4 linked regions of the Homo sapiens genome follow. The protein of the gene in region 3 purifies or fractionates together with the protein of the main gene of each other region. This does not show direct contact. Each region holds a gene or a part of one and is shown on either strand. Other genes may lie near its edges.

Region 1 (7,789 bases), on a different chromosome or scaffold from region 3:
GAGCCCTCTCCCCACCTGGAGAACCAGGCAGGCCTCCACACTCCTCGCCAGATCCTTCACGTGACCCCCACAGACCTGTTGAGGTGGAGGCAGTATTTCCAAAGTAACCGGTGCAGACTGGAAGCTTTAATAAGTGATAGAGACAAGATATGGACTCAGGTCTGGGTCCATGTCCTCTGTTCCTAGCTGCTGTGGCCTCTTAGCCTTTACCTGACAACAACTCGTCTTCCCTTCTGTCAAAGGCTCTGGTGTAGCTGGACCTGGGTCTTTTCAAACATCCAGCTGGGCACCCCCTCAAGCCCTTGGATGAGGGTCCCCACCTCCCACCATGTGCCTCATATGCCATTACCTGGATGCAGTAAAGAAGAGCCACCCTTGGGCAGGGTGTGGTGGCTCATACCTGTAATCCCAGCACTTTGGAAGACTGAGGTGGATGGATCACCTGAGGTCAGGAGTTCGAGACCAGCCTGGCCAACATGGAGAAACCCCGTCTCTACTAAAAATACTAAAAATACAAAAAAAAAAAAAAAATAGGCATGGTGGCACATGCCTGTAATCCCAGCTACCCGGGAGGCTGAGGCAGGAGAATCACTTGAACCTGGCAGGCGAAGGTTACAGTAAGCCCAAATCGCTCCACTGCACTCCAGCCTGGGCGACAGAGTGAGACTCCGTCTCGAAAGAAAAGAAAAGAGAAAAGAAAAGAAAAGAAAAGAAGGGCCACCCTCAGTGTCAAAGACGGGAGTGACCACCCACCTGGTGCCAGGGCTTGGGGCGCTAGGACTCCTTCCTTCATTGATTCATTGTCAAATATTTCTATGTCAGGCATGACACTAGCTTAGCCAGTGACCCTGTGACCCTGCTTAGGTGACTCAGTTTTCCATCTATAGAGGGAAGAAGGACCAAGGGGTCCCTCAGCCCCTGGCAGGCCGAGGGGATGTTGAGAGGATGCAGGCATAGGTGATGTGCGTGGGACAGTCCAAGTTCTCTCCTGAGTCACCTGAATTAGCAGTAGCTGAGACAGCATCTGGCCCTCTTAGGTACCTGAGCTACACCCTGAACCCGGACTTAATCCGGAAGCAGGACGCCACCTCTACCATCATCAGCATTACCAACAACGTCATTGGGCAAGGTCTGGTCTGGGACTTTGTCCAGAGCAACTGGAAGAAGCTTTTTAACGAGTGAGTCTGTGGAATGGGTGTCAGGGACAGCGAGCGCCGAGGCTGGGGCCCCGGGGGGTGGCCTGTGCGGGTAAGACACGCCGGGGGCACTAACCAGAAGTGGACAAAAATCAGCCAAGCCTGGGGGCTAGGGTGGGGCAGGAATGGAAAGACAAGCTGGGGTATGGGCCGTCCCTTTTCCCATTTGGAAGGAAAACGTGGCGTGTGGGCGTATTCTCCAGAAGAGAGGGGAGTGAGGAACTCGGCAGTCAGACCTGTGTTCAAGCTGTGACTCCCCCACATCCTAGTGGGGTCTCCCAGGGCGTGTCATTTCATCTCCTCTATAATCATGGCTCCCTACCCAGTAGGTGTGAGGATGAGCCTCCTTAGTTCCCGGCCTCCCTCACAGTTCACCTCTCTCCCTCCCTGCAGTTATGGTGGTGGCTCGTTCTCCTTCTCCAACCTCATCCAGGCAGTGACACGACGATTCTCCACCGAGTATGAGCTGCAGCAGGTAAGAAGTCATTCCCCAGACCTGGGCTCTGCCTACTTCCTTCCCAGGCCAAAGGGGCACTCCATTCTTCTCCCACGTGGCCCTGAGGGAGCACAGGCTCCACGCCGCCAGGCCTTCCTCATTTACAGAGGAAGCCGAGTAGCCAGACTTTGGAAATGTTGATAATTCAATTTAAAAAATTCATCTTGGGATTTTTGTATAGGCACAAAAGGGAAGAGTGGTATAATGAACCTCCATGTACCCGTTACCCAGGTTCAACAATTATCAACATTTTGCCAGTACTTTTTCCGGGCGGGCAATTTTTAAGCAAATCACTGATCATGTAATTTTACCTCTAAATAATTTAGTCATATGAAAAATAAACGCATTCTTTTATTTTTTTTATTTTTTATTTTTTTTTTGAGATGGAGTCTTGCTCTGTCACCCAGGCTGGAGTGCAGTGGTGCGATCTGGGCTCACTGCAAGCTCCGCCTCCCGGGTTCACGTCATTCTCCTGCCTCAGCTTCCTGAGTAGCTGGGACTACAAGTGCCCGCCACCGCGCCTGGCTAATTTTTTTGTATTTTTAGTAGAGATGGGGTTTCACCATGGTCTCGATCTCCTGACCTCATGATCTGCCTGCCTCGGCCTCCCAAAGTGCTGGGATTACAGGCGTGAGCCACGGCGTCCAGCTTTTTTTTTTTTTTGAGACTGAGTCTCGCTCTGTCATGCAGGCTGGAGTGGTGCAGTGGTATGATCTCGGCTCACTGCAACCTCTGCCTCTGGGGTTCAATCAATTCTCCTGCCTCAGCTTCCCGAGTAGCTGGGATTACAGGCATGCGCCCCCACACCCGGCTAATTTTTGTATTTTTAGTAGAGACGAGGTTTCACCATGTTGGCCAGGCTGGTCTCGAACTCCTGACCTCAAGTGATCCACCCACCTCGGTCTCCCAAAGTGCTGAGATTACAGGTGTGAGCCACTGCGCCCAGCAATAAAGGGATTCTTAAAACATAATCACACTGTCCTTAGCAAACCCAGGAAAATGATTATCTTCTTACTATCATATACCCAAGGCATATTCAAATTTTCTAAGTTGTTTATAAAAGGTCTTTTTACAATTGATATATATGCTTGAATTAGAAGCTTGACAAAGTCAACTTGGATTAAGTTAGTTTGTCTTTTTTAAAAATTGAGATATAATTTGCTGGGCGTGGTGGCTCACACCTGTAGTCCCAGCACTTTAGGAGGCTAAGGTGGGTGGATCACCTGAGGTCGGGAGTTCCAGACCAGCGTGGCCAACATGGTGAAACCCTGTCTCTACTAAAAATACAAAAATTAGCTGGGTGTGGTGGGGGGTGCCTGTAGTCCCAGCTACTCGGGAGGCTGTGGCAGAATAATTGCCTGAATCCAGGAGGCGGAGGTTGCAGTGAACCAAGATTGTGCCACTGCACTCCAGCTTGGGCGACAGAGTGAGACTCTGTCTCAAAAAAAAAAAATTGATATATAATTCATGGACCATCAAACTCACCATTTTAAGTGGTTTTCAGTAAACTAACAAGGTAGGGTGGGTGGGGTGCTTCATGCCTGTAATCCCAGCACTTTGGGAGGCCAACGCAGGAGGATCCCTTGAACCCAGGAGTTTGAGACCAGCCTGGGCAATATCATAAGATCTCATCTCTAAATAAATAAATAAATAAATAAATAAATAAATAAATAAGCTGGGCATGGTGGTGCATACCTGTAGTCCTAGCTACTCAGGAGACTGAGGTGAGAGGATCGCTTGAACCAGGAAGGCAGAGGTTGCAGTGAGCGGAGGTGGTGCCACCGCATTCCAGCCTGGGTGACAGAGCAAGACCCTGTCTCAAAAAACCAAAACCAAACCAAACCAAACAAACAAACAGAAAAAAACCATGTGGTACAACCATCACTACTGTCTAATTCCAGAACATTTTTATTACGCCAAAAAAAAACCTTGTACTCATTAGCAGTCACTCCTTATTCCTACCTGGTCCCCTCAGCCCCTGGCAACCACTAATATACTTTCTGTCTCTATGGATTTATTACCTATTCTGGATGTTTCATAAAATGGAATCATATACACACAGCCTTTTTGTGTCTGTCTGCCTTCTTTCACTTAGTGTAATGTTTTCAAGATTCATGCATACGGTAGCAGGGATCATTCTTTTTTATGGCTGAATAATGGTCCATTACATGGATGTACCACATTTTGTTTTCAGCTCATCATTGATGGGCATTTGGGTTGTTTCAGTCTTCTGGCTGTGATGAATATCATGGACCTTCACGTGCAAATTTTGTACAAACATGTTTTAATTTATCTTGGGTATACACCTAGGAGCGGAATTGCTGGGTCATTTGGTTACTCTGTGTTTAACTTTTTGAGAAACTGACAAAATGTTTTCCAAAGCAACTGTACCATTGTCCATTCCTATTAGCAGTGTATCACATGAGGGTTCTAATTGCTCCATGTCTACACTTATCTCTCTTTCCCTCTTTTTTTAGTATAGTCATCTAGTGGGTAGGAAGTGGTATCATTATGGTTTTCAGTTATATCTCCCTAATGAGTAATGAATGACATGATGTTGAATATTTCATGTGCTTATTGGCCTTATACACATTTGTGTATCTTTGGAGAAATGGGTAAAACTGACTATTTTTCTTTTCGAGAGAGGGTCTTACTATGTTGCCTAGGTTGTCCTTAAATTCCTGGGCTCAAGCAACCCTCCCACTTCAGCCTTCTGAGTAGCTTGGATTACAGGCATGTGCCACTGTGCCCAGTCTTTTGCTATTTTAAAATTGGGTTGTCTTTTTATTGTAAGAGTTCTTTATATATTCTGAATATTAGACCCTTAATCAGAGATAGGGTTTGCAAGTATTTCTCCCATTCTATGGACTGTCTTTTCACTCACTTAATAGGTCTTTTGATACCCAAAATTTTAAATCTTGATGAAATCCTATTTATCTGTTTTTTTTCCCTTTGGTTGCTTATACTTTATGTATCATATCTAAGAAAGTATTGTCTAACCCAAGGTCATGAAGATTTATACCTATTTTTTTATTTCAAAAAAATTTTTCAAACCCACAAAAGACCTGACGATGTTTTTTCTAAGAGTTTTATTGGCCAGGCATGGCGGCTCACGCCTGTAATCCCAGCACTTTGGGAGGCCAAGGCAGGTGGATCATGAGGTCAGGAGTTCAAGACCAGCCTGGCCAAGATGGTGAAACCCCGTCCCTACTAAAAAATACGAAAATTAGCTGGATGCAGTGGCGGGCGCCTGTAATCCCAGCTACTCGGGAGGCTGAGGCAGGAGAATTGCTTGAACCCGGGAGGCGGAGTTTGCAGTGAGCTGAGATCGCACCACTGCACTCTAGCCTGGATGACAGAGCAAGACTCTGCCTCAAAAAAAAAAAAAAAAAAAAAAAGAGTTTTATTATGTTTTCACTCAAACGTAGGCATTTGATCTATTTTGACTTAATATTTGTATATGATATGAGGTTGGGGTCCAACTTCATTCCTTTTGCATGTGGATATCCGGTTGTCCAAGTCCCATTTGTTGAAAAGACTGTTCTTCTCCCACTGAATGGTCTTGGCAACCTAGTTGAAAATCAATTGACGGTAAATATAAGGGTTTGTTTTTGGATTCTCAATTCTATTTCATTCATCTATATTTGCATCCTTATGCCTGTACCATACTGTCCTGATTACTATAGTTTTGTAGTGAGTTTTAAAATTGGGAAGTGTGAGTCCTCCAATTTGCTTTTTTTTTTTTTGAGAAAGGGTCTCACTCTGTCACCCAGGCTGGAGTACAGTGGTGAGATCACAGCTCACTGCAGCCTCAACTTCCCAGGCTCAGGTGATCCCCCCACCTCAACCTCCTGAGTAGTTGGGACTATAGGCACATGCCACCATGCCCGGCTAATGTTCTGTATTTTTCTGCAGAGACAGGGTTTCACCATCTTGCCCAGGCTGGCCAACTGTGTTCTTTTTCAATATTGTTTTGGCTATTCTGGGTCCCTTGCAATTTCTTATGCATTTTAGGATCACTGATCAATTTCCGCAAAAAAAAAAAAAAAAAAGTAGTTAAAATTTTGATGGGATTGAATCTCTAGAGCAATATGGGGACTATTGCCATCTTAATGATGCTAAATCTTCCAGTCCATGGACACAGATTTATTTGGGTCTTTTTTCTTTTTACTTAGGTGTTCTTTAATTTCTTTCAAAAATGTTTTGTAGTTTTTGGCATTCCAGTCTTGCACTTATTTTGTCAAATTTATTCCTAAATATTTTATTCTTGTTGATGCTATCGTAAATGGAATTGTTTTCTTAATTTCATTTTCAGGTTTTTCATTGCTAATGTATGGGAATACAATTGATATTTGTGTATTGCTCTTGTATCCTGCAACCTTGCAGAAATCATTAGTTCTAATAGATTTTTTAATGGATTCCTTAAAATTTTTATGTATGCAAACATGTCATACACATAGTTTTACTTCTTCCTTTCTGGATTCCTTTCATTTCATTCTCTTGGCTGATTGCCTGGCTAGAACCTCCAGGACTGATAACTCTTCTAATTTGTAGGAGTATTTTTTTTTTAAACCCATTTATTTACTGAAGCAACTGGATCATTTGTGGTATAGAAATTTCCACATTTTAGATTTGGCTGGTTGCTTCATTAGCCCCTCTCTACTCTCTTGATTGGATTGATATTATAATAAAATATTACACCTGAAGGCCAGAATCTCCCTGAGCCAGGTTTTGCCTGGGATTGTCATTTTGCAACCTCTGTGTTCACAAGGACTTTGCCCGGGAGCAAGGTGGACGTCCTGCCTATCCCTGGAACAGGGTGTGGTCCCATCCATGGGGACTCTAAAGTGGGAGTGGAAAGCCAGAGGCCTGAGAGAGCTCCTCCTCAAGGCTGTTAGGGACCCAGCCGGACTGAGAATCTTTTGTTTTTCTGGCAGCTGGAGCAGTTCAAGAAGGACAACGAGGAAACAGGCTTCGGCTCAGGCACCCGGGCCCTGGAGCAAGCCCTGGAGAAGACGAAAGCCAACATCAAGTGGGTGAAGGAGAACAAGGAGGTGGTGCTCCAGTGGTTCACAGAAAACAGCAAATAGTCCCCAGCCCTTGAAGTCACCCGGCCCCCATGCAAGGTGCCCACATGTGTCCATCCCAGCGGCTGGTGCAGGGCCTCCATTCCTGGAGCCCGAGGCACCAGTGTCCTCCCCTCAAGGACAAAGTCTCCAGCCCACGTTCTCTCTGCCTGTGAGCCAGTCTAGTTCCTGATGACCCAGGCTGCCTGAGCACCTCCCAGCCCCTGCCCCTCATGCCAACCCCGCCCTAGGCCTGGCATGGCACCTGTCGCCCAGTGCCCTGGGGCTGATCTCAGGGAAGCCCAGCTCCAGGGCCAGATGAGCAGAAGCTCTCGATGGACAATGAACGGCCTTGCTGGGGGCCGCCCTGTACCCTCTTTCACCTTTCCCTAAAGACCCTAAATCTGAGGAATCAACAGGGCAGCAGATCTGTATATTTTTTTCTAAGAGAAAATGTAAATAAAGGATTTCTAGATGAGTGAGACTCATTACTAAACTAAAGCAGGAGTGGGTCAATACAGCAGCTGGGGAGGCCGGGTGGGGGAAGCTGGGTGCATGCGGAGCACCGTGGAGTCTGGGACCCCAGAGCACAGGAGGGGAGACGTGCCCAGCCTGCCGGCCCTTCCTGCAGGTGCCCTGCGCCTGTGCCTCCATGTCTGCCTGCAGGACTCCGGGCTCCTTTTCATGCTCTATTGACTGAGCTAGCTGGGTGGTTTGCAGGGCTCCTTTTATTCCTATTCTGATGGCAGCTGGAGCTGCTGGGTGGTGGGGAGCTGTGGACCCAGTGCTCCCGCAGTGAGTGGTGAGAGGGGCCCTGGCAGAGCGCAGGGAGTGCTCTCCAGGAAGCACCCTCCTTAACATGAGGCAAGGGTGCAGGGTGCTGGCCGTGCCCCTCTTCCTGCTCCACGGGAACACCTGGGATACCTGGGACAATGCGGGACAGGTCTGTGCAGTGAAGGCAGCAAGCACAGGGTCCCATACCTGGTGCCACCCTTCACTGGCCAAGGGCACGCCCCACCGTCTTCCGTGGT
Region 2 (3,500 bases), on a different chromosome or scaffold from region 3:
GGCCTTACTAACAAGCTTGGCTTGCTGATTCCCTAGGCCTTATCTGATCCAAAGCTGCAAACTGGAAAGAGTTCAGTTTAAGAAGATAACCAAATACTTGGGGGTTATTTGTGGAGATAATGATTAGAATGTAAAAAGCCTTGACACTTTCAGTGAAGTTCACTGTAGTGTTGTGGTTAAAATCCCAGCCCCTGCTGTGAGACAGCCCTGGGCTCAAATTTTCTCTTTTCTACACTCATTAGTTGTACAACTCTGGGTTTTTGGAGTGTCTCCTCATCTATAAAGTGGGGGGATAATAGTACCCACCCCACAGCACTCTCGTGAAAATTAAATGAATAGCTGGGTGTGTTGGTGTGTGCCTGTCCCAGCTACTTGGGAGGCTGAGGTGGGAGGATCCCTTCAGTCCAGGAGGTTGAGGCTGCAGTGAGCTATGACTGTGCCACTGCACTCCAGCCTGGGTCACAGAGCGAGACACTGTCTATAAACACACACACACACACACACACACACACACACACACACACGCACACACGCACACACACTGAATGCTTGACAACTGTCTGGTAGAGTCACTTGTCATCTCCTGAACCTACTTTCCCACCCGTGATAGGAGGAAGCTGGGCTCCAGATGGTCCCAGTGTTCATCCTGAGCTGCAGAGCTCTGCTCTGTCCCTGATGCTCTGAGCCCTGCCCATCAATCAGGCCAAGATCAGTTCTGTGCTGGGCTGTATGGCCTGGAGCAAAGAGTTAGGGAGACGTGGGGCCCAGAGTACCTGGGTGACCCTGTCTTGCCTTTTCTTCTGCAGATATTGCTGTGGGAGCTCCGTTTGAAGGCTTGGGCAAAGTGTACATCTATCACAGTAGCTCTAAGGGGCTCCTTAGACAGCCCCAGCAGGTACAGAGAGACGGGGATGGGTCTGCTGCCCCCACCAGCCGAGATGGGCCTTCCTTGCTTTCCTTCACCCAACCCTTCCCTGTAGCCCCCTGGGCCCTGCTCCCCAGAGCCTGCCCCCACCACTTTCCCCTGCCCCCAGGTAATCCATGGAGAGAAGCTGGGACTGCCTGGGTTGGCCACCTTCGGCTATTCCCTCAGTGGGCAGATGGATGTGGATGAGAACTTCTACCCAGACCTTCTAGTGGGAAGCCTGTCAGACCACATTGTGCTGCTGCGGTGAGCCAGGAGGCCAGTGAATAAGGGTCTTTCTCTTCTTCATCTTTGTCTGCACAGATTCCCATCTGTGTCCATGTTTGCGCTAGCTCCTTGGAAGCCTGGGCCCCAACTCTGGCCTGGGGCAGGCAGGAGGCACTGATATCTGTCTGGCTCTGTTGTCTCTGCAGGGCCCGGCCCGTCATCAACATCGTCCACAAGACCTTGGTGCCCAGGCCAGCTGTGCTGGACCCTGCACTTTGCACGGCCACCTCTTGGTGAGATTGTTCTGCCCACCTACTCCTCATTTATTTATAGGGAGGCTAGGAGGGGCTGCAGCTCCCAAACCCCTCCCCTGGCCTCCTGACATCCCACCTTTAGAAATTTGATTCTTGGGGCCAGCATTTGCCCTCTCTACCCAACCTCATTAAAAAGCAAAATTCCTTGTAAGAGGTAATGGATGAAGTCGGGGGCAGTAGAGTATAGTGGTTCAAGGTGGGAGCTCTGGACGGCCTGGTTCAAATCCCAGCTATGCCAGTGCAGGGGTGGGGATGGGCTCTGGAAAGGGGGACGCATTTAAGTGGATGGATATGGAGGAGAGTCTCCTCAGGTGAATTATTAATCCCTCTTAGGCTCAGATTTCTTGCTTGTAGAACAGAATTGATAATAACTGATTCACAGGGTTGTTGTGATAATTAAATGAGAAAATATACAGAAAGTCCTTAGCACAGCACTGTGTATACCCTAAGTGCTCAAAAAATGTTAGTTGCTAAGAAAGTGACAGTAATGATGGCGATGACCCCAAGGTCTTTAAGTGAATGAGGATTTTGGATCAGAAGACAAAGGCAGACAGAGCAGGGAAATGGGGTGGTTGGTGCAAGGAGACCTGGACTGGGGATTGGCCGACCTAGGTTCAAGACTGGGCTGGGCCACCAACTGACTGAGGACTTCAGACAAGTCCTTCTGGGCCCTAGGCCTCAGTTTCCCCATTAGTGACCTCTAACCCTGTTCTCTTTGGCTTTAAGGGGAGTGGAAGGGAAGGGGTCAGGGACACCACAGACCTGCTTTGTGGACTCCCCAGTTTTGTCCCTGCCTCTCTCCAGAAGGGCCTCGGTTTCCTTTTGCCCAGTACAGAGGCGAGAGCTAGGGCCTGGACGTGTGTGTCCCACTGTGACCCGCCCTCCTGTACATCCCTCCAACAGTGTGCAAGTGGAGCTGTGCTTTGCTTACAACCAGAGTGCCGGGAACCCCAACTACAGGCGAAACATCAGTGAGTGCTGGGGTGCAGCGTAAAAGGGGTACGCTCCCCTGTCCCCTTGCTGACCACCCTGTCTACCTGTAGCCCTGGCCTACACTCTGGAGGCTGACAGGGACCGCCGGCCGCCCCGGCTCCGCTTTGCCGGCAGTGAGTCCGCTGTCTTCCACGGCTTCTTCTCCATGCCCGAGATGCGCTGCCAGAAGCTGGAGCTGCTCCTGATGGTGAGGGAGGAGCAAGGGTCAGGATGAGGGCTCCCAGGTCCCTGGAGGAGGTGGCCAGTGTCCCCCTAGATCAAGGGTGAGGGACGGGGGTCTCCCCAGAGACAGAGGTTGGGGACATCGGTTTGGAAGGCTATTGGTGTGTAGGAGTACAGTGTACAGCACCCACACATGAGGAGTGATGGAGACCCTTGGGGTGGGGATGGGGCCAAAGGGCTTATTACCTCCAAGGAAAGTGAGGAGTGTGGGAGCTCTTGGCTCAGCCCACCTCTGGGAAAAGGGGTCCCTGAGTAGGGAGCAAGGTCAGTCCCTCTCTGGGACATCAGGGTGGAAGGGGAGAGCTCAACCTGGAGACCCTGTGGATGGGGAGGTGAAGGGACTTTTGAGGAGGAGAAGCCCTGTCTCTCCTCTTGGAGGGTCAGGATAGTAGGAAGTCGCAATTTGGCGACCGGACTGGAGGGAGTTCAGCCTAACTGTCAGGTTTTCAGGGTGGGGGGCGGGTCCAGCTCTTCTCTGGGGTTCAGGGTGGTGTGAGGATTCAGCTGGGGCAGGGAGCAGTGCAGGGCCGGGCTCAGCTCACCCTCTCTCCCCAGGACAACCTCCGTGACAAACTCCGCCCCATCATCATCTCCATGAACTACTCTTTACCTTTGCGGATGCCCGATCGCCCCCGGCTGGGGCTGCGGTCCCTGGACGCCTACCCGATCCTCAACCAGGCACAGGCTCTGGAGAACCACACTGAGGTGAGTGGGGCTGGCGCCTGGACTGGAAGACCAGGGGCCAGAAGGGCGGTGGGGCGAGAGGGCACTGGGGGGGGTGGTGCGGCCTTCACACCTCCGGCCACCCCCCAGGTCCAGTTCCAGAAGGAGTGCGGGCC
Region 3 (8,060 bases):
GTTTGCTGTTTCCTTATCATTGTGGGGATGTTAGGATATTGTGGAACGGTGAAAAGAAATCTGTTGCTTCTTGCATGGGTATGATGTTATATTTTCTCTTTATTATAGTTAAAAAGATTAACCAGTAATATATTATTTTTTAATCAGTTCACAAGATTAGGGAGCAGTGATAGCAGTAACAACATCCTGTAAGAAGGGACGCTTTCGTTTCACAAGAGATTATTTGAATACACATATTTGCTGTACCGGATGAGGTATGGAAATATATATAAGCAATTTAATTATTTCACTCCAGCTACGTGTTGACATTTTCATTTGAAAGTATGAGTTCTTTCTAGTGTCCTTGTAGTTATTAGCACTCAAAAAGGCCCCTTGGGACTGGAACTGAGAAGCCATAAAGGAACTGTTTCTTTCTCTTCTATTTTTAAACAAATCCACCCTGTAAGCTCCTATGGAAATTCAGGTTGTGAGGTAGCAGACGTATGTAATGGTCCTGTCACTGCCTTTATATAGTTTAGAGAACATAAGCGAGTCTCAGTTTCTATAATCTTGGTTGTTGTTTTTTTAACTCTGAGAGTTGCACTAGGTACTTTTTAAATTAGTTTCACCATTCAAATTCTGTGACTAGTCTTTTAATTCAAAAGTAGGCAAACATTTTTAACATTAAAAAATTGAGTTGATTAAAATACTGTTTATATAGATATTTTTAGAAGAGCACTTAATGTGCAAAATATATACTAGTGGCACCAGGTAATGAGATTACTAACATATAGTTGCAGACATATAAGGCTGAAAAATTAATTCATTGAGTATACGCTTTTTTTATAGTAGGTCTCAGCCCTGGCTGTGTATTAATTTCATATAAAGAACTTAAACAATTTGAGTGGTGTGCTGGTAAGCTGGATCACTGGGCAGAAAAAAAGCTCAGATTTGTAGCATTTGGGGATTTCCGTGGGGTAAATTCTCCCAGCATGGTCAATTTTAAGTTACCAACATGAAATCACTGAATGTGGAACTGGGGACAGATGAGTACAAATTGGCTCAAGGAGCCAGCTCCCACACACTCGTGCTTGACTGGCTCCCATGCCAAGTCAATTAAAACAGAATCTTAGTGTGAAGTTGAACTAAAGCTTTGAATTTCACAGTATAACCTGTGTTAATGTATTACTTAGCTTCTTGGAGGGTAACTGTTCAGGTCGAATATTGAAAAACACAAAATGCTATAGAAAATAAAGCACACTCAGGCCGGGCAAGGTGGCTCACGCCTGTAATCCCAGCACTTTGGGAGGCCGAGGCAGGCAGATCACGAGGTCAAGAAATCAAGACCATCCTGGCTAACACGGTGAAACCCTGTCTCTACTAAAAATACAAAAAAATTAGCCGGGCATGTTGGCGGGCACCTGTAGTCCCAGCTACTCGGGAGGCTGAGGCAGGAGAATGGTGTGAACCCGGGAGGCGGAGGTTGCAGTGAGCCGAGATCACGTCACTGCACTCCAGCCTGGGCGACAGAGCAAGACTCCATCTCAAAAAAAAAAAAAATAAATAAATGAATAAAATAAACCACACTCAGAGATGGGGAAACATGCCTACTGCTTTATTTCTCTTCATATAGGTATATAGTGAAAGGGAGAATGGTGGAAATTTGGGATCTTATTTTGCAATTTTAGATATTTGGGCAATAATTTAAACATAAACAAAAGGACTTACTTTACATGAACCTTCTATAATTTGAGTAGAGTATAACATATTTCAAGTTTTAAATAAAGAGTCTCAGAATTCTTTTTTAAAACGCAGTCTTACAATGATGTCTCTCTTGCATAACCAATTAAGGTCTGACTGCCATTTCCTCCCTCCTCCCAACTTTTACTCTGCACAGTCCCTATGCAGTGGGATGCTGGAGGGAGGCAGGGCAAGTAGGGTCAGGTATTTCATGGAACCACAAAGGCTTTGGAAACACATTTTGAAAACTCTTTATGCATTCCCTTAGGCTGCTTAGATGCTAGTAATGCAAATTGACAAACAACAAAGTAATGTGGCCTGCTACTTGAAGTAGAGCAAATCTTAAACTTGTGAATGAGAGTCTAGTTTGTAATACTGGCAAGAGCATTATAATGCAAAAGTGGCAGGGATGACTGAGGTTCTAAAGGCCACTAATTTACTCATTCATTCATTCTCCAAATACTTACTGATCATGTATACCACCAATTTTTGCTATCAGACCTGTCTTTATGAGATAAGACCTCTAATAGGGTTTGCACTGGGTGCTATTGAGGCCAGAGAGGAAGAACTCTGAGCTCAGCCCGAAGGGTTCAGTGCCACCCTCTGGGAAGATGATGAGCATAGATTGATTTTGCTTTTTTCCATCTCTACTTTGCTTTTTGGATGTACTCTTTTTTACAAAGCATCTTTTTATGCATTGCTGTTCCATGTGTCCCTAGGTGACATCTACATCTTGGTTCCTCCTTCCTGTTGATTGCCTTTGGCTGTTCGTTCTCCATTCCCTTTGGGGTGCCTCTCCTCTCATGGCAGGCTTCTAGTCCTTACTCTGTCTAGACCTAACACAGCTTCCTTCTTGCTAAAGAATGATCTGTGGTCTCAACTACCATGTATCTATCACTCACAACCAATTTGCATCTGGTCTGTTTCTCAGGCTCTCCTCTCTGGCTTCCTCCCCACATCCCACTCCTCTAAATAGCTGCCTATTCCTCTCAGTTCAGATTCTACAGTCATGGGAAGTTGTCCTCTCTTTTCTGTCCTCCTCTGGGATGCCCAAGTTCAGGCTTTCCTAACTTCCTGCTCAGACAGGTGCAGAGACTCCCTATTGGGTAATGAAGTATGTACCAACACCTCAAATGTACACCAAGCCCTTCTACAATGGAGACTTGATCTGCCATTTTTTGCTTTTTTATCTACTTCATTATTCTCTGGTTCTGTATTTTCTGACCCCTGAACAAACTTTCTTGCTCCGTTCTTCTCTACATTTATTCTTGCTGTCTTCTTAGCCAGAAATTTCTTCTCAGTACTTTCATTTAAATATTACTAGCCCATGAAGACTTATCTGAAATGCTACCTCTTCAAATGATAATTATGACACTGATGATAATTGAAGTAGTTAACATTTCTTGAGTACTTACAGTGCCAGACACTGTAGAGTTTTACCTGAATTTTTTTTAAATGAAGAGTTCTTGTACATGAGTTAATCAATTTTATCCTCTCTGCTGAGTATAAAATTGGACTAAAACTTTGAATTACCCTTATTATTCACTTAATATAGATGAGGAAATGAGGCATAGAGAGATTAAGTGAGTTGCCTAAGTCTACACAGCTAGTAAAGAGAGGATCTAATATTCAGGCCATGGCAGTCTAGTTCCAATATTTGTAACAATTTTGCCATTTTACTCTATAATAGCTGATTTTTTTCCTAAGTGTTTACAAATGTGTCCTGTAATGTATAAAACATTTTCATTTTAAACCTGACGACAATTATCTGAGATAGGTAATTATTAAATGAGGTTCAGAGAGGTCAGTAATATGCCACAAGTCATTCGGCAATAAGGCTGGGAGCTTGGATTCAGACCTCGGCGTTCCTGATTGCAAAGCCCATTCTCACTGGGCCTTTACTGATGTCTCTAATAGACTTTTCCCAACTTTTGAAGCCTAGTGTATTTCTCTTATTATAAACTTCCTTTTCTTTTTAATAATCAGCCCAGACTACCAGACTACAAACAACTTCAGTAATATGAACCATTCACCTTGCTCATTGCTTTAATAAGTGTTTATTAAATCATTGAATAACAGACAGTGAATTAGAATAGTGAAAGTAGGAATGACCAGCACATCAGATTAAAGATGTTGCCTGGAAGGCAGTGATGAGAGTGAGATTTTAACAGAGGAATTTGACTGTTAGAAAAGGTTAGATTACAAGGGGAATGGCTCATGGAGGGGTGGGCGGTAAAATAGTGCAGAATGCGACATGATGTAAGGTCTTGGGCAAATATTTGCAAAGTAACTTACAGTATTTTTTGTGTGCCCTTTAACCTTTTATCCTAATTAAAAACAATTTTTTAAGGAAGTTTCTTACTTTTATTTTGGATGTAAATATTTAAACAAGCAGAATACATTCATCCAACTTGTCCATTTCCCTGTATTCAAAGTCTTGTTTTACTTTTAAGAGCTGTAAAACAGATTAGTGTGAGAAAGCTATTTTTCAAAAGACAATTGGTATCTCAGAGAGCTGCCATATCTCTTGAATGATTATATATATATAAAAAAGAGCTGGCAACTGGGCTGTTTTGCTGTTCAAGCAAAAGTAAAAATGCCATTATTCAACAGACTGATCAAGAAAAAGTAAATGAGCCTTCCTCAAAACAGGTCTTTATAACCAGCCTCCCTGCAGCCCTCATCAAAAAGCAACAGAAAACCTCTACAAGCTAAGAGGCCACCTATTGGAAAACATTTCTGAGAAACCTTGGTCATGAATTTCATCCTTCTTTTGAATGATAGATTTATAGATGTAAGTTGTTAAAGCACCCTAATTTAAGGTTCCCAAATAAAATAGAAGATGCCCAATTAAATTTGATTTCAGATAAACAATAAATAATGTTTTAGTATGAGTATATCCCATGCAATGTTTAGAATATACATATACTAAAACATTATTCATTGAAATTTAAATTTAAATGGACATAGGTATTTTTATTTGCTTTATCTGGCAAACGTACTCATTAGATTTGTTCTTAGCAAGTGTGAAACTGTCATAGAACAGAAATTTTTATGTATTTATATGAGGGGTTTAAGAATAATTAAATTCTAATTATAATGGGAAAACAAGCCAAAAATGACTAAGAAAAGAAACTGGAATATGCCATGCCTTTCACGGTAATTTCAGTAGTAGAAATTCCTTCTCCCATTAACAGAGAAAGTGAAGCTAAATTGAAATTGGTTTTAAGCCTTAGATGGTTACTTCCCAAGGCTTTAGCTGTAGACGAAATGAAATTCATTTGTTATTGCAGTTCTACCTTGCTATTAACATAGGCATTAGGAAAGCAGTGCCAGCTCAGGGGGAATGTAAACAGATTGAACAGACATGTTTATGATGTTGACAACAGCTGAATGTCACCATCAGGAGATCATCATTTGTCAGGATGTGATGCAAATATATGCTCAACTGCCAGCAAACCACAAGCAGTCAAGTGCTTGTCAGAAATTAAGTTGGATGTACCTTACGTATTTAATACAAATGAATCATTTTAAAAGGAGAAGTGCTTTTTTTTCCAATTTTATTTTTCCAGAGACTTTGAATATAACTATTGATTGTGTGCTTGCACTTTTAAAACTTTCTTTAAATATAGAGTGATTGAACCAGATCTGAATGTTTTCCTTAGTGGAAATCAAATGAAATTTTAATGGCCTTGGAGAAATTTCCCCTTGTTTTTTTTTTGTTTGTTTGTTTGTTTGTTGTTTAAAATCATAATGCAAATCAGAATATATTTAAGTAGTAATTGATTTTCTAAAAAGTCTCTGTTTAAGGCCTTCTCTTACATAGTCATGAATTTTATGATTATATAGCTAGTCATAAGTCCTTAAGTTAAAATTAACCTATTAAGTTGTATGTCTTTATTATTTTGTTTATATTTTTGGTTGATAGCCTAAACTTTATTTCTAAATGAAGATTCATCATATTATTTACCGTATGTTCAGTATCTGCCCAATATTTTACCTTTGTTTTCTCAAAATATACTCACAGCAACTCTATTAGACTAATTTTACAAATGAGGAAAAGTAGAATCCCCAAAGATACACAGCTGGTAGTTGTTAGCATTCAAATGCAGCCTGTGCTGAAAGACCATGCAGGTTTCACTACACCACAGTACTGTTATAAGGCATTTAACTAATTACTGGCATTGTTTCTAGAAGACTTTAACTATGCTTCATTTATCACTCCAAGGCATTCGGTAGTCATTTAATTTCTAAAAATATGGTCTTTTGGTATGCTTATTATAAAATGAACTTTAAAATTTCTACTGTAGTTATCATTTTTGCTTATCTTGTCAAAGAATCAAGCAGTTTCTCCTTTCCTTTTTACCTTCCTCACCTCTCATTCCTCTTTCCTTTCCTTTTGCCCTCCTTAATTGTGTATTGAGTACCCATCCATGATAGTTACTTGAGAGAACAAAGATGAAAGGGGTGAATAGAAAGAAAATTACAAAGCAAAATATAACATTAAATTTATAAATAATTGCTGTGGGAACCCAGAATCAGGAGCAAATGGAGATTTCCAGAATGTTTCACAGGGGAGTCTTTATTTGAACTGGATGTTGAAAAATACATAAGGGTTTGCCGGTGGAGACGAGGAAGGAAGAAGATTTACAGCAACATGAAGAGTGTGTATAAACACTGAGGAGTGAAGGGACAGGGTAAGCTTAGGCAAAACTTAGAAAGTCAGAGTGGCTGTGGTGTTGGTGCACAGTGAGAAGAAAATGAAGTTAAGTCCAATTGTGAAGGTCTTTATCAAAAAGTTAGATGTTATTCTTTGGGCTGTAAAGAACCAATGCGTGTTTCCAGCTTGTGATGAAATGATAATTCACATTTAAGCGGGAGACAATAGAAAGCCCTGTTAGTGATTACATTATCATCCCCAGAAGCCATGGATAAGGGTATGAACTAAGTAAGACTTAGGGACTGGAGGAAGGTGGCTGAAATCAGTAAACCTTGCTGAGGTAGAATTATGGATAAAGCATTACATGATAGTAATGTTTGTATTGCTTGACATCAGGAAATGAAAAATTATTCAGCATTTGTACTTTTTTATATAATAGAAACATATCTACTCAATACATGTACTTTATTTGACTTGTTAGCTAGAATTCTTTAGAAGTTATAATTTAAAATTTTTTATTTGTAATTATCAATAATAATTGTATATATTTATGGGGTACAATTTGATGTTTCAATGATGTATGTATACACGGTGGGATTCTTAGATGAAGCTAATTAACATATCCACTGCATCCACTTATTTTTTGTGGTGAGAACATTTAAAGTTTACTATTTTAGCAATTTTGAAATATACAACTTATCATTATTAAATATACACTTATACATCACTCTATAGTCACCATGCTATGCAATAGGTCACTAAAAGTTATTTCTACTATCTAACTGAAACTTTGTACCCATTAATCATCCTTTCACCCTCCTCCTCTTCACCCTACCAGCCTCTAGTAACCACCATTCTACTCTCTATTCCTCTGAGATCAACACTTTTTAGGTTCCACATATAACTGAGATCATGTGGTATCTGTCTTTCTGTGCTGGCTTATTTCACTTAACATAATGTCCTCCAGGTTCATCCATGTTACCACAAGTAACAGAATTTCCTTGTTTTTTTAGGGCTGTATAGTATTCTGTTGTATATATGGACTACATTTTCTTTATCCATTCATCTATTGATGGACACTTAGGTTGCTTTTATGTCTTGACTATTGTGAATAATGCTGGAATGAACATGAGAATACAGATATCTCTGTGGCATTCCTATTCATTTCGTTTGGATGTACACTCAGAAGTGAGATTGCTGGATCATATGGTAATTCAATTTATAATTTTTTGAAAACCTCCATACTGCTCTCCATAATGGCTGTACTAATTTATATTTACTCAAACAGTGTACCAGGATTTTTTTCCCCCACAGCCTTGCCAACATTTGTTATCTTTTGTCTTTTTGATAGTAAACATTCTAAGAGCTACAAGTTGATATTTCATTGTGGTTTGAATTTGTGTTTTCCTAACAGTGATGTTGAGCATTTTTTTTCATCTCTTTGTCTTCTGTTGGGTATTTGCATGTCATCTTTTAAGAAATGTCTGTTCAGGTCCTTTGCTTATTTTTTAATTGGGTTATTTACTTTCTTGCTATTGAGTTGTTTGAGTCCATTTTATGTTTTGGATATTAGTCCCTTAACAGATACATGGTTTGCAAATATTTTCTCCTAATCAATGGGTTTCACTCTTCTAATTGTTTCTTTTGCTATGCAGAAGCTTGGTAGTTTAATATTTTCTCA
Region 4 (8,060 bases), on a different chromosome or scaffold from region 3:
TTGCACTGTTATCAGTAAAAGTGCCTAATCAATCATGTGCACACCCATCCAGTGGGACAGGTGTCCTTTGTCCCTGGCTGTGATGTTTATGAGTGGTAGTGTGCTTTTCCAAAAAAGAAAAATGGAGTTTACAAGTCATCATAACTCTCTAGCTCCATCATCAATAAAGAGGAAGAGAATGCAAAGAATGCGATTGAGCAGTGGAACATACTTCTTGGAGGGCTCTTTAAAGAGATTCTTGGTGAAATAACTGGCTTTGTGGTCTGAGCCTTTCTTCAGGTGCTACATTTCTGTTCAAATGATTTCAAAAGATAAGATGGCAATATGATCATTTATCATTTTTACATTGCTTATCCAAATCGTTCTCATTTGGAAAAGGATGCATGTTTCTTGCAGAGGCAGTCCGTGCCTCAGTGGTGTGCAAGGGAATATCATGCTTAAAAGGCCACCAAGAGTGGCCAGCTACATGGACCACCCAGAAGGGAGGCACATTGTAGGGTGGAACATACGAGATCTCACGACTGTCACTGCCCCTAAACAGGCACAATGAATGAAATTTGTCCACACTTGGTAAATAATAATTTGTTTAGCCCAACCTCAGAGATTTTTACATTTAGTTTTGAGATGAAAATCACTTAAACATTCTCGTATGGCAAGTAATTTTTGAAATTACCAGTATAATTAAGAATTTTTTATAGTATCAATCACCAGAATTAAGACCATATAAGCCAATCCCTCCACTCTCCATTCAAAAACATTATGACTTTTGTATGCCTTGAAAATTTCCATTAATTTCTCTGATTATAGCTCAGTGATGATGATTCATTTTAGTTTAGGAGGATCAGAATTCGAGTTAAATCATTTTAACCATTATATTAATAAGATCTATGACTGTGGGAAAAAATAGAGATTTTCCACTTAATAAAAACTTTCTGGCTCTTATTTGTGCTTGTAGAACCAAAAAAAAATGGAGTAAATAGATGAACATAAATTTTTGCAGGGCCACAATTCCTTCTTAGGAAAGGGAAACTAAAACAAATTGAGAAAAAACATGAGAAGTGCTTTTACAAGTGTGATTGCTCAGAAATTGTGGGCCCATGTAAGGTTGACTGCAGCAATTATTAGTTTCTCCTTCCCTCCCCCTTCAGAAACAGACAGCATGAATATTTAGTGATTTTATTCCATGGATAATTTCTTTCCGTATTGAGTTGTCCTCCATAATCGTGATTCTTTTTTAAAAAAAGGAATTAAAATTATTTCAAAGAAAGTGTCACTATGATGATAGAAAGGAACAAAGAAATAGGAGCATCTATAAAAACTAGAAAACAATCTGGAAAGACTGGACAAAATGATGGAGGAGTACTTTGGCAACAATCACATTAATCTAGCGAAGGTCAAAGAAGAGACATCATGAACTCAAACCGAAGAAATTCACATGTGAATTCTGAGCATGAGTCTTAGAAACAGACTTTAGTGTACTGTTATTCACCTTTGTTTCTTCCAGAAAGCCATGGCAAATAACAGCGCAAAATTGTGATAGCAGGAGAAATGTTTGTAATTTCATGGGAACAATCTGTTTTCAAACATCCCAAACTATCCCAAATATAGCAATAGTTTTATGTAAATGGTGCTTGCAATTATAAACCTTTCTTCCCTGGCCATAAAATATGCCTGGCAAAATCTCAACTACCCAGACCTTTTCTAGGTTAGATTTTTCTCTATGTATCCAGGAGCAAAACTGTTTTCATTTGGAAATGTTCTATAATTCTTAACTCTTACATTCTCGGGCTGATCTTTTCTCTAATGGGTCTCACTTAATGAAATTGTTTGCCTTTAGAGACTTGGATAAAACATTTAGCCTATGTCTAGAAAAGAGGCAACAACAATCTACCCTAGCTTCTTTTTACAAAGAAAAGACTGGGATAGATTTTTTTGTCTCTATAAAAATTATCCCTTGACATCATGTTCAAGGGTCATTATTTATTAAACATGTGCCTACTGTTTGCCTGCCAATTGTTAATGCTTTCTGACTCACATTTATCCATTATCTGGCCTTGTAAAGGCAAGAAAGGGAGAATGTGACCCAGGCTCAGGGAAGGGAGTGTACCTGCTTGAACACCTAATATATGTGTCAGGCACCTCATATTGTATATTATAATCATTGCCAAGAAACCTGTGATGGCAGGCATTATTATTCCCATTATCCTGGTAAGGAAAACTGAAGCCCAAAATAATTAGATTGCTTGATATCATATAGCCAGGGAGTGGCAATGTCTGCCTTACAGCATTCATCTTCCCACTACTTGGATCTTCATATTGGAGGAACACAAGTAGAATGTAGGAGCCATCACATAGAAGTTCAGGCTCTGCTTCTGATCTGCTGGCAGTAATAATTTATACTCAGCAATGTTTCTAGAAAAAATAAATAATAGTGAAAGCCTTTCTGGGAGCTTTCAATGAGACTGTTCATCCCAGCCCTGAACTTGCAGCTGGCCAGTCCTAGGTCCCTGCTGCCCATCTCCTAGCAATTCCGGAAAGGACTGAGAGGGAGTCAGGCAGAAAAGACTGGCCACAGTGGCCCACCAAAGAGGACAGTGTGGCCACAGATTAGGATGTGCCTGATAGTTTTAAGTGGTGGCACCTCCTGGGTTTGGGTACAAAAGATCCTGGGAGTAGCAGGTTCATTTATAATCTTCATGGAAGACTAAGTTTCTCTAAAATTTGGAGTAAAGGCTGTAGAGCAAACAGGCAAAAGACCAGTTGATAGTGGAAACAGACTGCCTGGTGGAATCTCTATGAGAACTGAGGCATGCCAGGCTTTGAAGTGAGAGAGACCTGGTTTCCAATTCCAGCTCCATGGCTTGCCGAATGAGTGACTTTGAGGAAGTTCAGTAACTTCCTTCTTTGTGCCTCAGTTTCTTCCCATGCAAAATAGAGCTGTCTACCTGAGGGTATGGGTATGGGTGTTGGTGATTTGTAAAGCATCCAGCGGTGTCCAGCACATAATAGCCATTTAATAGAAGATATTATGATCTTGATGATAAAGTTATAAACTAAGCAGGTGTTTAGACTCAATTTTCTATTTCAGTCACAACTGAGATCTCAATAACTGCTGGGATCTCCTATAGCCTTAAAAGATTAGGAAAATGAACCTTATTGTAGTTCTTGTTAAGCACAGGGTGGGGCAGAAGAGCAAAGTAAATGTAAGCCACTGTGCTGGGTGCTAACAGGGAGGATAAAAGTAAAAGAGAAACAGCCCCGATATCTGTCTAACCTTCCTTCCCAGATGAGTGGAGGAAGGAGGGGCTGGAGGGGGATGAGTTTTGGACTTGGGCCAGGGAGGGGATTTCAGGAATGGAGGGTGGGAAAGCAAACTGGCAGGGAAGACCTGGAAAGTCTCAGTTGGGTGAGGAGTGGGGGATGCTGGCCCCAGGCCAGGGCATGGAACCAGGGCATGACTATCTGAACCGGTAAGGGCCACAGGAGCAGGTGGGGAACTGGAAGAGCAACAACAAAGGATAAGGAGGAAGAGGTTTGGGAGACAAAACCTAGGAAAAGAGGACCTGGTATGCTAAGGGCTGAGTCCTAACAGCTTCCTAACAGGACCCCCAAGCCATCTTCTACTGCTACCCACCAAGCTCATGGTGTGATAGGAGAAATGGAGGGAGTCAGGAAAATTGTGTTTATAATACAATAGACTTCTTGAGAGATATAATTTGATTTTTTTAAAAGGAACAAATTTATACTGAGTGCCTACCATGTCCAGGTGCTGTGGAAGGTGCTGGAGACTCTAAAGTGGAAAGAAAGAAAAAAGAGACAATTTTTTTGCCTTCATGATGCTTACAAGAAAATGGGGAGAGAGGGAGGAGGGGTGTTCTGTGCACAAAGATCAGTTTGTATCTGTTTGATTCATGACCGGAGTGAAGGGACCAGTTTCTAGTTGGAGTGAGCTGAGTTCCCATCCACCCTTTCAAAGCCCCCACCATCTCTCTGCTGCTTTGTTCCCTGGTTGCAATTTTCTTGGTGCCCTCAGCCTAGCACAGATCTTTTGGAGGTTGACCTGGGTCCCTGAAGATGAGCGGAGTTATGAGGCTGCCCGTGGGGAAAGAATGGGAGAAGAAGCATGGGTGAATCTTGTTCCTGAGGTTATAGAGGGTGTTTCAAGAGGTGCCATGGAAATAAGGGTGCATAGTGTTCACTGCTGCGAAAAAGGCAAAATACTTTTCCACTCTGTCGGAGTAAAATCGCAAAAATGCTCTTCTAGGGTGGGACAGGTGGGTCTTTATTCTGATGCTAATGGTGACATCTGGTCAGTCAAGGCTCTTGGAAGATTCAGCTCTGCATAAGCTTGGGGATGGTGAAGCTAATGTCCCAAGAAGCCCACAAGAAAAAGTTAGACTTGTATGTCTATGGATATGGTCAGGGGTTTCTGAGGCAAATCAATGTAGATAAGGAAGTCTGTGAGTTGGCATATGCTTGAGGAAAACATGGTATCAGGAGGCAGGTATTATACTGGTTTAGGTCAGGGCTTTGGTTTCAGATAGACCTTGGTTTGATTCCAGCTCTGCATTTTACCACCTATGTGAGTTTGGGCAAGTTACTGGAACTCTCTAAAGCTTGAGTTTCCTTATCTGTCCTAATAGTGTAGATCATAACAGTACTTTCTTGTAGGGTTGTTGTAAGGATGAAATAACTCACATTGCAAGTGCTCAATAAATGTTCTTATTAGCGAAATGATGGTTATCTAGTGATTCATCTAGAGCACAGCCCTCAAACTTGAATGGGTCCAGAGACCTGCTACTCAAAGTGTGGGCACCAGCCCAGTAGGACTGACATCAACTGGAATCTGATGGGAAATGCAGAATCTCAGGCTCTAGGCCAGAACTACTCAATCAGAACTTGCCTTTTAACAAGATCCTAGATGATTCACACGCACATTCCAGTCTGAGAAGCTCTGATCCGGAAGAGATCAGGAGATGTTCAAGTGCTGAAACACAAGTAAGGCATGGCAGAAGCTAAAATGTGAAGTATTGAGAGTAAACCAGGAGAGCAGATGGTTATTCCTTCCATCCCTTAAGGATCTTATCTTTCAAACTTCTGCTTTACCACTTCAACACACAAAACAGAGATAGATTTCCTTCTAGGAGTGTGTGTGTGTGTGTGTGTGTGTGTGTGTGTTGAGAACATCAATGGTTCAATAATTGCTTCATAGTCTTTTCTTCCAGGAAAGAGCATTTGAATTTGGCTACAGAGAATAGATAGGTGGGATTTTATTAGGCAGAGCAAGGTGGAAAGGACATATTTGGGAGACAGAAGACATAAGCAAAGGCAAGAGGCAGGAGAATTCAGGGCACTTTCTTGGACTCCTAAGTAGTTAAGTTTGACTGGAGTAGGGAGTGGGTAGTAGAGTGATGAGAATAGTTGTAAGTAAGACTGGAAATACATGTGAAACCTGGGTCATGAAGGGCCTTGACTCCTCTTCAAGATTTTGGATTTTATTCTGAACTACTGAAGGCATTTATTGTACATGTCTGTGCATTCTTCTTGCACAAACAGTCCAGCTCCCAAGGAAGAGGGGCCCAGCCCATTGGAGGTGGCCCCACGTCCTTCAGTGCCTGGAGTTCTTGTCCTTCAGAGTGGGCTGGGGGTGGAGCTGGACATCCTGAAAACTTTTAGTGAGATTGCAATCAGATGAGCTCATTTACAAATGGCCCTACGCTGTTGACTTGGTCATTTTATGGACAGTGCTAATGGCCCAGTCAGTTAGGCCTACGTTTGGTTCACCTGTGTATACATCACTTGGATATTATGTCCCATATCATTGTTGGCCCTTCTGAGTTAAGTTCGTTGGCACAGATTTACTTTGTCCACCCAGACTGAAACTGCACCTCTGAAGACTCCATCACGGAAGGTGACTCTGTGAATAACTGCTTAGTCAACCTAATAGATGATCTAGATGAGAGATTAGCAAATTTAACACTACTCCAAGGTGAGGTATCAAGCAGCTCTTCCCACATACAGGGAGATGGGGGGAGAACAGACTAAGGAAGATCTTGGACTCTCTCTCTCATTAGAGAAATGGGGGTGGGAATTAGGGACTAGCCTGTGTACTACTGACCTATGGCATAGTCTCTCAAAACCCATTTCAGAGCCAGGCACAGTGGTACATGCCTGTAGTCCTGGCTACACAGGAGGCTGAGGCAGGAGGATCCCTTGAGCTCAGGAGTTTAAGGCTGTAGTGTGCTATGATCATGCCTGTGAATAACCACTGCACTGCAGCCTGGACAACATAGCAAGACTCTGTCTCTAAAAACAAAACAAAACAAACAAACAATCATTTCTGATAGTTTACTTTGCCTGTCAAAATGAAGAGCAGGTAGGATAGAATCAAAAGCTTTAAAAAAATCAAAACAGCTTACAGCTGCTATTTTCTCTCTGCCTCTGCGATCATTCAGAGAAAATAAATTCACTGGTCTAGTCCAACTTATTCTTCCCTAAGCCCTGCTGTTTTTTTTTTCTAGTATTTCATATTGCCTTGGTGGTTGCTAAGTGATTGTTGGATTTAGCCCCAGTATATTCTCAGATAACTATGCCAATAATCTATAATTACCAGAATTCATCTTTTCTCCCTTTTGGAAAGATGGACTGGCTATTTTTTTCTTGTAAACCTTGGGTGTTTAATTCTGCCCTACAGGATGATGTCAGAGATAATAGCTGGTGAGTCTTTAATAATAACTGCGAATTCCTACAATATTGTAAGGTAAACGTCAAAAGGTTTCATGCATATATATGTATCTTTTAATCTTTCATTTGAACAGTTTCACTTTTTATGATCTTGCTGTTGGTTCTGGAATTATAGGACAAATTTTTCTTTTCTTTTCTTTTCTTTTTGAGACAGGGCCTTGCTCTGTCACTCATGCTGGAGTACAGTGGCTTGATCATAGCTTCCTGCAGCCTCTAATTCCTGGGTTCAAGTGATCCTCCTGCCTCAGCTGCCAAAGTAGCTGGGACTACAGGTGCACATCACCACGCCTGGTTAACTTTTTATTTTTTTTTTTAGAGACACGGTCATGCTATGTTGCCCAGGCTGGTCTCAAACTCCTGGGGTCAAGTGATCCTCCTGCCTCAGACTCCAAAGTGTTGGGATTATAGGCATGAGACAATACACCTGGCCCAGGGGATTTTTTTCTCCATCACTTAACATGAAATTCACCAAGCAAAACCTCTTACATAACCATGGGACCAATAATCTCAGATTCTCCATTCCCCTCCCCACCTTGATATTAGGATTATGCAGCTTAATGAGTCAAGCTGTCCCACCCTACCCACCTATTACTCCCACTCCCAGGATACCAGGAGTTTTGTATGGGATACATAAATGATCCTTTTTTCCATTCCGTTAAGCTGTATGCAAATTGTGTGTGTGCTTATGTACATTTTTCTGGGGATAACTTTGGTAGTTTTCATCAGATTCTTAAAGGTGTCTGTTTGCTAAAGCCAGATTAAGAGCTACTATAAAGAACACATAGCCTCCGTTATTCCAGCCCAATCTTTGGAAATAGAGATTATCAGAATGGGTACATCCTAATATTTGCCGCAAATGACTCTGAAGATGCGGATGCAATTACATAAATCCCAGGCTCCTTCAACATATAAACCCAGAAGTGTGATTTCAGGGCCCCAGACATGCCCTGTCTCTACTTCATTCTCTTGTCCCAAATTGCAGCACCCAGAATATTTCTTCCTAAGCATTACTCAGGCTATCCTATTTTCTTATTCAGAAACTATATTCCTGTTCTTTAGCTATTTCCTGCACAAATCAATTTCTTTTTTTTTTTTTTTTTTTTGGTAGTCATTTTAATTTACTTCTTGGTTTCAATTTGGATTGACTTTCTGCATTTTGCTACTGGTAGAATTGCAATGCATTGGGCCAGTGGTAGACCACTACCTGTCAGGAGAAATTTCTTTTGTTCTTTGGTTTTTACTCGCACATCACAGTGATGGGCGTCATTCAGTGGTTCTAAACCCTCAGTACACTTAGAAATCACCTAAGAAGCTTT

What was found.
Region 1: the proteins of TSPAN12 (region 3) and ANPEP purify together in Homo sapiens (co-immunoprecipitation; one study listed by IntAct). This does not show direct contact.
Region 2: the proteins of TSPAN12 (region 3) and ITGA3 purify together in Homo sapiens (co-immunoprecipitation; one study listed by IntAct). This does not show direct contact.
Region 4: the proteins of TSPAN12 (region 3) and NDP purify together in Homo sapiens (co-immunoprecipitation; one study listed by IntAct). This does not show direct contact.

Annotation. Positions count from the first base shown.
Region 1 is NC_000015.10:89,784,342-89,792,130, reverse strand, and holds the end of ANPEP (aminopeptidase N precursor), read left to right. Parts: intron 1-1,037; coding exon 1,038-1,178; intron 1,179-1,589; coding exon 1,590-1,671; intron 1,672-6,629; coding exon 6,630-6,782; 3' UTR 6,783-7,236; downstream 7,237-7,789. UniProt on the Homo sapiens protein: Broad specificity aminopeptidase which plays a role in the final digestion of peptides generated from hydrolysis of proteins by gastric and pancreatic proteases.
Region 2 is NC_000017.11:50,073,110-50,076,609, forward strand, and holds part of ITGA3 (integrin alpha-3 preproprotein), read left to right. Parts: intron 1-806; coding exon 807-895; intron 896-1,034; coding exon 1,035-1,171; intron 1,172-1,338; coding exon 1,339-1,425; intron 1,426-2,349; coding exon 2,350-2,417; intron 2,418-2,489; coding exon 2,490-2,626; intron 2,627-3,216; coding exon 3,217-3,366; intron 3,367-3,474; coding exon 3,475-3,500.
Region 3 is NC_000007.14:120,830,795-120,838,854, reverse strand, and holds part of TSPAN12 (tetraspanin-12), read left to right. Parts: coding exon 1-78; intron 79-8,060. UniProt on the Homo sapiens protein: Regulator of cell surface receptor signal transduction. Plays a central role in retinal vascularization by regulating norrin (NDP) signal transduction.
Region 4 is NC_000023.11:43,950,246-43,958,305, reverse strand, and holds part of NDP (norrin precursor), read left to right. Parts: intron 1-3,757; exon of another isoform or gene 3,758-3,790; intron 3,791-4,903; exon of another isoform or gene 4,904-4,987; intron 4,988-8,060. UniProt on the Homo sapiens protein: Activates the canonical Wnt signaling pathway through FZD4 and LRP5 coreceptor.